Linked DNA regions of Homo sapiens: all the other regions are linked to region 1. The links come from fine-mapping of genetic effects on gene expression. A gene starts in region 1. Each other region holds a variant in brackets. All regions are shown on one strand. Distances are from middle to middle.

Region 1 (2,683 bases):
GATTAGCACTCAATAAAAGTTTTAAATGTGAATGAGAATGGTAAAAACAGAATACTTAGTAGGCTAACACTAGGATATTCTTCTGATTGCACTTTTTTGTTAAGTTGGTCACTTAAGACTAAGGTAAAGCTTCTGTGCTTTTTGATATAGATGCTGATGGAGGGACTGGATCTGGTAGATACATAGCAATCTAATCATGGCCCAAAGCCTCCAATATAGTATACACATGCATCCTAACTTACAATGATCAACAATGAAAGAATTAATTACACTGTGCTAGCAGCCATGGATATCACATTGCATAAGAGATAGTTCCCTCCCTTAGAGATAAGAGGCAGACGTTTAAACTGTCAGTTGCGATGGCTTGTGACTCTCATGAGGTCTGCGTAGGGGTCAGCACGGTCACAAAACCTGTGGAGGAGGAGGTGGTTAGGAAGGAAAATCCACCGAGATGAAGCTGTACTGGATACAAAATCACACGTTCCTGGGCTTTGGCAGGGAGCTTGCCCACTGCACTTCCTGCCTCGAGGCTATGGCTGGGGTGGGATTCTGGCCCTTGTAGGCGGCCTGGGTCCAGTCTCCGCCATGCACTCACTAACTCCATTACTGCTAATGGGATGTCATCAGCGAAGCGAGTGGTGGCGGCAGGTGGAGTCCCGCCCCAAGACCCCCGGGCGGCATCCCCATCGCCGCGCTCCAGCACTCTTCGCCACCTCGTAATTTTCTTCTGTTTCTGTATGATCAGGTCTGTCCTTCGCTTTTGCTTTCCATTACTTCGTCCTAGCCCTGGCCTGAATCCCACAACTGGCGCCCCACCTTGTGCACCCGCACCCGCCCTCAATACCGGCGGGCAGCTCCTCCACTGCCGCAGGGTTACCAGCTGCGTGTCCGAGGGGCAGAGAGAGAAACAGAGGGGGACGGGGCAGGCGCGCTGGGCCCGCCCCCCCGTGCCTGGGGCAGCTTCTCATTGGTGAAACCTCCTCCCCGGCCGCCCGCTGCTTGGAAAATCAGCCTCGGATTGGCTGACAGCCCCCCGACGGGCGTGGCTTCCGAGGAGAGGGCAAGAACGGAAGCGAGGGCGCGCTCTCGAGAGGAGGGGTTGCCTAGGCGACGCCGGAGGCGCGCTCGGGGGGTGGGAAAGCGAGCCCGGCAGCTCAATGACAAATCGGTGGAGGACGGCTGGGGTCCGGCCCCGGGAGGGGGCGGGGCGCGTTTAAGAGCTGCGGGCCGGGTGCGGACGGCGGAGGCGGCGGGACTGGTCCCTGGTAAGGGCGCGGCGCCCGCGGGCCCCGGGCGGGGTGGGGCGCGGGCTGGGGAGTGGGGTACGCCGCACGCCCGCAGCCTCTTGCTCCCTCCGTGCCGGGCTGTGGCCGGGCGGCGGCAGGACATGTCGCGCCCCGAGGCCGGCGGAGGGCGACGCCCCGGCAGCGGCCCCGCTCCGCTCCGGGAGGACTCCCTGGGGGAGTCTCGGCTTCCTGGGCTGCCTGGGGCTGAGGAAGTGGGGGCGGCCTCCGCCTCTCCCTTGTAGCCGCGGTTCCTTCCCTATCCCGCAGATGGCTCTGCTTCCACTTCCTGCCGCGGGCCTCCCGCTCGGGACCGTCCACTTCCTCAGTCCTCCGGCCGCGGCTTGGGCAGGGTCAGGGCTGGGAAGTGTTGCAAAAACTTAACTGCCCTCGGAACTTGCACGCGCCGTGAACTGGGCGGTGTTCCTAAAGGGCTTCGGTTTGCTGGTTTTGTTTTGGTCCTGTCTTGCAAATGAGCATAAAGTTGTTTCTCCCCCAGCCTCCTCCCCTTTCCTTTCTGATAGGGGCCAGCGGCGAAGGGGCTTCTAAGGGGAAGCGCCTGGACTGGGCATCGCCGTCCCGGTTCTTGCCGCCTGTGGGAGTGTGAGGTTAACCGTGCTCGGTGCAGGGTTGCGGGGCGCGGAGCTTGCTGCGTCCACACTGCTTGTGTGAGCAGTGTCCTCTCTGTGCTCATTTCCAACGAGAAACGTTGGAACTTTGGTGTTCTTATCAGGTGAGTCTTCGGGAGAGAAGTGCTTGTGCCTGGCGGACTGAATGAATTGGCCGTGGAAGAGACTTGGCTGATTGCTCATCTGGGTTACCTGTGACTCATCTTCAGCCCTTGTAGAACAGTGCACTTTCTGCTCTGTCCTGGTTTCCTAACCTCATTTCTTCTGAAGTTTTGGGGATGGATGGTGGGCATGGAGTATCAGAGGGGATAGTGAATCTTTTAGAGGTGTCAATGACTGATGTTCCAAGCAGAGCCATAAGATTGTTGGATGTCAAAGCTCAGAACCGGTCAAGGCTCAGAATGCTCCTTAAACCTGGAGCAATAGAAGCACAGTATCGAAGTTCCCAGAAATGGGCCGACCATGAAAGGTAGCACTGCATATTGGGAAAAACAGGAGGGGTGAGTTTGAAGACCTGGGTTTGATGCAGGTTCTGAGAGTTTACCGGTGTTGTGATGTGGAGCACGATCTTTCCCCCTCTGAGCTCCAGAGTCAGCAACTGTAGAAGGGTGATGATAGTTATCCTAATTGTTAGGATTAAACGAAATAGGAGCGGGGGAGAAGAAGGCCAGGGAGACATATCCTTTGTGCGTGGCTTTAGTTGTCAGCCGGTCTGCTTTATTCTGACCACATCTGGGGCTTTCCTTCCTTGCCCATTCACATTGCTTCCCA
Region 2 (2,683 bases), 32 kb after region 1:
CTCTGGCAGCTTAGAGGAAAGTCAGCTTAGAAAGAAAGGGTCCACGTGAAGTTTGTCTTAGACTCTTGGGCATCTGAAACTGAGCCATGCAGAGCTCTGCAAGGCCAGTAGGGGATACGTATGGTTCACGCTAATGGATACAAAGACTTTGTGATTTTCTGTTTCCAGCTGAGCAATGTAAATAAACATCAGGGTTGTAATGGAATGTTGGGGTAATCAGCATACTTTTCATTGAGTACAGAGGTATGTAGGTACAGCAGGACATTCTGACTTCTGTGTCAAAGGAGCCAGTGGAACTCTGGCTGGCTTTATCCTTGGAAGCTCAGAAATATACAGTTGAGATAATTTATGGTAGAATTCAGAGATTTTCAGGGGACAGTCGTGTGTTGGATTTTTTTGGCGTGTATTTTTCTTTTTGGAAAGGAGTTAAAAGAAGGACACTTGAAAGCACAGGCAAGTTTTCACATCTCTATTTGGAGATAATTTATTAGTACACGTTGAAGAGAACCTAATACTAAACATGTCTTAATATTTTTATTTTTGAGTAGCTGTTAACTGACAATACAAGGCTCTTTTTAACAGTCTTCCTCAAATAACCTTTAATTCACTTGGACATTTTCAATTCCATTTTTAAGTTAAAAAAATTTTAAATCACAGCCTTATTAAGATGTAATGCACATATGAAATTCGCTCTTTTTAAAGTGTACAATTTTTTTTTTTTGAGATGTAGTTTTTCTCTTGTTGCCTAGGCTGGAGTGCAATGGCACGATCTTGGTTCACTGCAAGCGCCACTTCCCAGGTTCAAGTGATTCTCCTGCCTCAGCCTCCTGAGTAGCTGGGATTACAGGTGTGCACCACCATACCTGGCTAATCTTTTGTATTTTTAGTAGAGATGGGTTTTCACCATGTTAGCCAGGCTGGTCTCGAACTCCTGACCTCAGGTGATCTGCCTGCCCCGGCCTAAAGTGTACAATTTAATAGGTTTTTTTTGTATATTCATACAGATGTGCAACCATCACCATTATCTAATTTTAGATCACTTTCATCACTCCAAAAAAAACCA[AC/A]CTACGTATTAGTAGTCATTCCCCGTTATTGCTTCCCCGTCCCACCCCTGGCCTCTGGCAACTGCTTTCTGCTTCTATGGATTTGCCTATTCTGGACATTTCATATAGATGGAATCATACAATATGTGGCCTTTATGTCTAACTTCTTTCACTCAGCATCATGTTTTGAAAGTTGTTCCATGTTGCAGCGTGCGTTGGTACTACTTCATTCCTTTCTCAAAAACCCACACCACTGAAAGCCTCTTGGTACACTGTGTTAGTTCATTCTCTTGATGCTGTGAAGAAATACCCAAGACTGGGTAGTTTATAAAGAAAAGAGGTGTATAGCCTCTTTTCTTCCACAGGGCTGGGGAGGCCTCAGGAAACTTACAATCATGGCAGAAGGGGGAGCAAACATGTCCTTCACAAGGCGCCAGGAAGAAGTGCAGAGCGAAGTGGGGAAAAGCCCCTTATGAAACCATCAGGTCCTGTGAGAACGAACTCACTATCACAAGAACAGCATAGGGGTACCGCCCCCATGATCTCATTGTCTCCCATAAGGTCACTTCCCCAACACATTGGGATGATAATTCGGATTACAACCTAAATGATGAGATTTGGGTGGGGATGCAGAACCAGACCATATCATACATCTTGCCAAATTACTTTTCAGATGAATTTTATACTTCCGTTATGAATAAGAACTCCAGTTTTTTGATATACCTAATGTTAAATGACGAGTTAATGGGTGCAGCACACCAACATGACACGTGTATACATGTGTAACAAACCTGCACATTGTGCATATGTACCCTAAAACTTAAAGTATAATTAAAAAAGAATTCCAGTTTCTCACCCTTGCAGGTGTTTGCATTAAAATTTTATACTGACAATAATATTGCCAAGTGTTCTGCTCTGTGCCTGGTTTCCTCATCTGTAAATTGGGATATCTGCCTGTATTGTTTAAAAACAAAAAATGGCAAAACAGAGCTATAAAGAACAGAAGTGTTACGTAAAATGTTGCTTCTGTAGTGTCCTGTTCATAGTGTGAAGTGCCCATATGTGGAATTTTGTTTTTTGGCAGATTTTGTTCCCCTTAAGACTTTGTTAATTACCGATAATGTTTATTTCCTCAGTTTGTAGAAGACTATGAACCTACCAAAGCTGACAGTTATAGAAAGAAAGTGGTTCTTGATGGGGAAGAAGTTCAGATAGATATTCTGGACACCGCTGGGCAAGAGGACTACGCAGCCATTCGAGATAACTACTTTCGGAGTGGGGAAGGGTTTCTTCTTGTGTTCTCAATCACAGAACATGAATCCTTTACAGCAACTGCCGAATTCAGGTATGTCTGAAATGAAATAGCAGAAGCCCCCAGGAAGCTTTTTGCCTTTTCTCATATGTCTTAGGCCTATGAAGAATTTGGGGCTGAGCATACTAGGAGAGGGCTGAGCTTGTTCTCAGGAATAATTCTGTCTAAAGAATCTTCTGGGGCTTTCTGAATCTTGGCACATTATAGACTATGATGATTATAATCTCTTTGGGCTTTCCTGATCTGTGATTTCTGAATAAAATAATTTTAAGAGTCTTACTGTCCCCGAAAACAATGAAGCTATTCCATATAATCAAGAACATATAAT
Region 3 (2,683 bases), 25 kb after region 1:
TTTTGTTAGAAGGGAAGTTCTGGCCAGGTGCAGTGGCTCACACCTGTAGTCCCAGCATTTTGGGAGGCTGAGCAGGGGGTGGATCACTTGAGATCAGGAGTTTGAGACCAGCCTGGCCAACATGGTGAAACCCCATCTCTACTAAAAATACAAAAATTAACTAGGCAGGGTGGTGCGTGCCTGTATTCCCAGCTACTCAGGAGGCTGAGGCAGGAGAATCACTTGAATCCAGGAGGCAGAGGTTGCAGTGAGCCGAGATCGTTCCATTGCACTCCAGCCTGGGTGACACAGTGAGACTCTGTCTCAAAAAAAAGAAAAAAAAAAAAGGAGGAAGTTCTGCCGAGGACTCTTTGCCCTCACTATCTGCCTAAATGGTCTCTTTCTACCTCCTGTATCACTCTTACAATTAGATGGGATGGAAAACAACATTGGTTCATTCCTACTGGGTGCTGGGTCTGTGCCTTGGTGTTTTCCATGTATATCCTATTTAGTCCTCAGAACATTCCTGCAAGGTAGGTGGTGGTTGGTTTTATGCACATAAGAAAACTGGCTTGGAGACATTGAACTAGTTCTAGGGTCACGCAGCTCACAAATGGCAGAACCACACTCATGCCTGCCAGATGCCCAAGCCCTGCCCTTTATTCTTGTGTTTTGGTATATGTGAAATAGATTTTTCCATACAAATTGGTTAAAATAAAGATTGGCACTTGGGTTACGGTAGATTCCAGGTCCCTGTTAAATATACTTACTTGGGATGCTTTGTTGTCCCATAATACTGGAGTTGCTCTACTCATTTTATCTTCCTTCTGATTAGGGCAAATTGATTTTGAGATTTCTCCTTTTAACTCTCATGTCATGAAGGGGTATTTGTTCTTGAACTCACTTCTTTAATCAACCAGAGGGATGTGTGGGGCTGTGTAAGAGTGTGAGAGCATATGTGTGTGTGAGAAAGTGTATGAGAGCATAAGAGTGCATGGGAGCATGTGCGAGAGCGTGTGTGTTCTGTGAACGTGTTACAGCATGTGAGATTGTGTGTGGTGTGAGCATGTGAACATGTGTGTGAGAGCATGTGTGTGGTGGCGTGAACATGTATGTGTGAGAGCATGTGAACACGCATGTG[CAT/C]GTTAGAGCCTCTGAGCCTGTGATATGAGCATGTGTTAGAGCATGTATGTGGTGTGAGCATGAACATGTATGTGTGGTATGAGCATGTGAACGTTAGAGCGTATGTGAGTGTGTAGTTGTGTGTGTGTGTGAAAGCGTGAGTGCACCTATGAGAGGACAAGTGTGTGATAGTGTATGGAGTGTGTGTTGTGAGAGCATGTGAGCTTGTGAGTGTACATGAGCACAAATTTGAAAGTGTTGTGAGAGCGTTGTGAACGTGTTATGAGTGAAAGTGTGTATGTGGGTGTGTGTGATAGTGCGTGTGTGATAGTGTGTGAGCTTGTGTGTGAATGTGAGCATGTATGACAGCGTGTGCTAGCATGTGTGAGCCTGTGATAGTGTGTGAGAGCGTGTGAGAGCAAGTGTGTGAATATGTGTGTTTGAATGTGAGAACATGAGCATGTGTGAATGTGAGAACATGAGTGTGAAAATGAGTGTGAGCGTGTGTGTGAATGTGAGTTAATGTGAGCGTGTGTGAGCGAGTGTGAATGTGTGAATGTGAGTGAATGTGTGTGAATAAGAGCATGTGTGAATGTGTGTGCGAGTGTGTGAGCATGTGTGAATGTGAATGTGAGAGCGTGAGTGTGTGTGAATGTGAGCGTGTGTGAGTGTGAGCATGTGTGTGAATGTGGGCATGTGTGAGTGTGTTAGTGACCGTTTGTGAGTGTGAATGTGAGAGCGTGTGTGAGCGTGTTGTGAGTGTGTGCGTGTTGTGGGGTAGAGGGTAAGAGGGCAAAGCGAGGAGTAAAGCTAAAGAGCTGGGGATTGAGGTCCCAAGCTGTTCTCCGCGGCAGCCGAGAACCGAGCAGAGAGGTAGGAAACTGGAGCTACGAGCGGTTTGGTCTCTGCCTCAGTGAGGCCCTGCTGAGGGTCTGATGATTTTTGGTGACTGGGTGTCCTCTCCACCCTGCCCAGTGAGGCGGGCGTGGGGTGTGCGCTCCTGTTTCTCCCCTCTAGCCTTGGCTTCGCCCCAGCTGTGCTGGGGTAAGTGACTTCCAGAGTTGTTGGAGGGCTCGCATGTCTGCCCTGAGCCTGAAAGGATTACTTTCCTGTTGGAATGTCTGGGTTAGTTAGGCTTTAATGGAGGATGTGAATGACATTTGGTTTTAGCTAGGTTGAAAGCAAATCGCCTCTAAGTCTTTGTCTTTGTCATCAGCAGCTCTTCAGTGGGTCATCTGTGTGTCACAGCCTCAGAAGACCAGCGAGATGGCTGCCAACAAGAGTAAGGGCCAGAGCTCCTTGGCCCTCCACAAGGTGATCATGGTTGGCAGCGGAGGCGTTGGCAAGTCAGCCCTGACGCTTCAGTTCATGTATGACGAGGTAAGCCCTGCTAGGCACAGACCACCTTCCTTTGGCATTGGCCGTAGCAGTGTCCCTGCTCCCGCTGTTTCTGTGCCGGTCCTCCCGTACACAGGGGTTCACGGAGCAAGTCTGTGTTGAGGTGGCTTCTGAATAGCTTCCTAGGAAGGTCTAATCAGCATAAGATCTGGATTGCTGATTCTAGGTAAATAATTTCAACTCC
Region 4 (2,683 bases), 38 kb after region 1:
TGCAACCTCTGCCTCCTGGGCTCAAGCAATCCTCCTACCTCAGCCTCCCAAGTAGCTGGGACTACAGGTGTGCACCACCACACTGGCTGTTTTTTGTGGAGATGGGGTTTCACCATGTTGCCCAGGGTGGTCTCAAATTCCTGGGCTCAAGTGATCTGCCTGCCTCAGCCTCCCAAAGTGCTGGGATTACAGGTGTGAGCCACCACACCCGGCGGACTATGCTTACTGTTGGTGTGGTCCTGGGAAGGATGGTGGGACGAGGCCATTGGTTTGTGAAGGCTGGGCTGGAGGGATGGACGTCATTAGCTTCTGTGTGTGCTCTCACCTTCCACAGCCTTGCTCTTCAGGAGCAGGGTGGGCGGGCCTGGCTGCTTCTAGGAGGTTCCCCTGGAGGTGCCCTTGAAAGATACGTGGAGCTTCTTGATTTTGCTCTCATTGAGTTATTGGTCAGATTTGTTCTTTTCACCTTACTGTTCACTGACAGAGCCACAGTGTTCCATCTTTGTAGTGTAGTCTCTAAATAGTATTTGCTCTCAGAACTCAAATCTCTGGGATCTCTTTTTTTTTTTTATCTCTTATCCCATCCCAGCATACTTTCTCATTCAAATCTCTGAAGCTAATAAAAGGGTGACCTTGAGTGACAATGATGAATGCTGACAATTTGAAAATCCACCTATCAGGGATTGCTATTGTTAGGCCTTTTTTCTTTTTAAAATTAAAGTTCAAGGTGGTTGCCACACAGCTAAAATTTTAACGCTGTGCCTTAAAGATGAGGCTTTCTGCCTTGACCTCATTCACTAGCTCTCACTGCATATCCATGTGCTTGTAGAATCTAAGCACATAGCACTTTGGCAGCCACACAGTGGACACGTCTGCTTTTTGTTCTGCAGCATCAGCATCTGAATCCCCTATATCCTGTCTTCTGTTTCTCTTTCTTGTGCAGAAACATTCCCCTTTGCTTTCATTACCTGACAAGGGAGAGATTTTTATCCAAGCTTTATTTTCACTTGAAGTGATGCTAGAAGAACATTGGTATTTAGAATGTTGGTATTAGAAGGGGTTTGCTTTAGACGCACTTCGGCAAGATACATCTATTTGTATGTATCGTACATAAAAACATGTATCTTAGGAGACATATACATATAGGATAGATATACATATAGGATACATATATTGTACAACCTAAGTCCGTTTAGTTGTAATCTGCAATGGGAAGCGCGTGTTCCG[C/T]CGTCAGCTTTTCTTTATATTGTCATCTCTCAACTCTTACACTCTTATATTATTGTGCTACTTAAAATATTTTTATTAAATTATTTTCCAGCTGTGGAAACCACACAGGAAATCCAGAAATATGGCTCATTTTAAAAAAATCAGGGAGACTCTCTCAGCTTGGAACTGTGGATGTGTATTTCCTGGATGGGTTGTCGCGTGGGGGGTCTGTGTTGTCATCTCCCCTTGTCTGCTGGACCAGCTTGACCTGCCAAACAGGAACCAGCAGAGACTTATGACTGGCAGCATGGTATTCACTTGTAAAGAATTTCTATGAAAGGTGTGATAAGATCAGCCCATGAACAACTTTGTCATCATTTTAAGTTGGATGCACTCCATTCCCCTCCTCTTGTCTTTTGCTGTTAGGACAAAAAGACAAACCTGTAGCATTTGAAACTGTTCACTGTTGCTGTCTTGGGCAGTGCTTTCCTGAGAGGCTGGCAAGAAGGGATGTTTGGGTTGGCCTGATCTAGCTGGGGGCTGGGGTTGGGGGTGCTTTTCTGTGCCTGGAGCTAGTGGTAAATGCATGTGGAGCCCCACACTCCAGAGGCTTGATCTTGCTTTTCACCAAGAAGAAGGTGTGGCCATGAAGGAGCTTGTGGTTTTGTGTGAATGTCTGAAGATAAGGGCTGTGCTCAGTCCCACACTTGCAGTCTCTGTCATTCTCTATGAGAAATCTCAAATGTCTCTTCGTAGGATTCATATTTTGTCTGCTTGGGTATAATCAGTCCTCTGGCATGATGGCTGGTAGCAGAGGGCAAAACCCAAACTACTGTGACAAAAGGATAATCCATATCTAAGTAACACACTGACCTTCAAAGGACAAGTCTCATCAGTTCTTGATAAAGTTCCTCTCAGCTGACATCACAAGGGTCGGAGGAGTGGTTGTCCTGAGATTGAGGGTGGGGGAGTGTGTGTGGGGAGGGATAGGGTGGCCAGAAGGACATCTCTCATCCTCCATCTTCTCAGTCGCCTAGTGCAGGAGCTTTAGTTGTTGATGCTTTACGCCCTCCTTCTCCCATCCTACTGCCTCCCCAGGGTGGCTGTTGTGGAGTTAGCTGGGAAAGCTGTCATGCATAATGATGTTCCAACCTCCATGGGGTCCTTGTAAGGATTAAATCAGATGCAGGGGTGTCAAGAGCACCTGGGAGCAGGGACTCATTATGGCATTCTTCCCTTCCCTGGTGGTTGGAAATGCTAGAAAGTCTGCTTGCTGTTATTACTCTCAATATTTGTAAATTTTATAAATGTATAGATCTGTTATATGCAAAAATATGTCTTACCCTTCATCACACTTATTGTAAGATTTTATCATTTTGAAAGCAGCTGTTAGGCCGGGTGCAGTGGCTGACGCCTGTAATCCGAGCACTTGGAAGGCTGAGGTGGGCATTGCTTGAGCTCAGGAGTTCAAGACCCG

Alleles and levels. Alleles are on the strand shown, and positions count from the first base shown. SD is a standard deviation of normalised expression in the study named. Not every link is listed here.
For the expression in amygdala of the gene that starts at base 1,137 in region 1, allele A in region 2 goes with a lower level than allele AC (small effect, 0.35 SD a copy in GTEx).

The links. PIP is the estimated chance that this variant, and not a neighbour inherited with it, causes the effect.
Region 2: its variant is the best candidate, but not a certain one, in a credible set for the expression of RALB in amygdala (GTEx, PIP 0.76).
Region 3: its variant is the best candidate, but not a certain one, in a credible set for the expression of RALB in fibroblasts (GTEx, PIP 0.73).
Region 4: its variant is the best candidate, but not a certain one, in a credible set for the expression of RALB in whole blood (INTERVAL, PIP 0.68).

Annotation. Positions count from the first base shown.
Region 1 is chr2:120,251,716-120,254,398 of GRCh38, forward strand. RALB (RAS like proto-oncogene B) reads left to right here and starts at 1,137. Exons shown (of 5, transcript NM_002881.3): 1 at 1,137-1,265. RefSeq lists a silencer at 830-1,419 and an enhancer at 1,920-2,189.
Region 2 is chr2:120,283,695-120,286,377 of GRCh38, forward strand. RALB (RAS like proto-oncogene B) reads left to right here. Exons shown (of 5, transcript NM_002881.3): 3 at 2,180-2,388. Among named protein-coding and RNA genes, the nearest start is that of RALB, 32 kb to the left of the region's middle. RefSeq lists an enhancer at 1-452. The variant AC/A (reference allele first, on the strand shown) is at 1,064.
Region 3 is chr2:120,276,298-120,278,980 of GRCh38, forward strand. It overlaps RALB (RAS like proto-oncogene B), which reads left to right. Exons shown (of 5, transcript NM_002881.3): 2 at 2,321-2,481. The coding sequence starts at 2,368. Among named protein-coding and RNA genes, the nearest start is that of RALB, 25 kb to the left of the region's middle. The variant CAT/C (reference allele first, on the strand shown) is at 1,121.
Region 4 is chr2:120,290,075-120,292,757 of GRCh38, forward strand. The region is part of intron 4 of RALB (RAS like proto-oncogene B); the gene reads left to right. Among named protein-coding and RNA genes, the nearest start is that of RALB, 39 kb to the left of the region's middle. RefSeq lists an enhancer at 437-1,132. The variant C/T (reference allele first, on the strand shown) is at 1,228.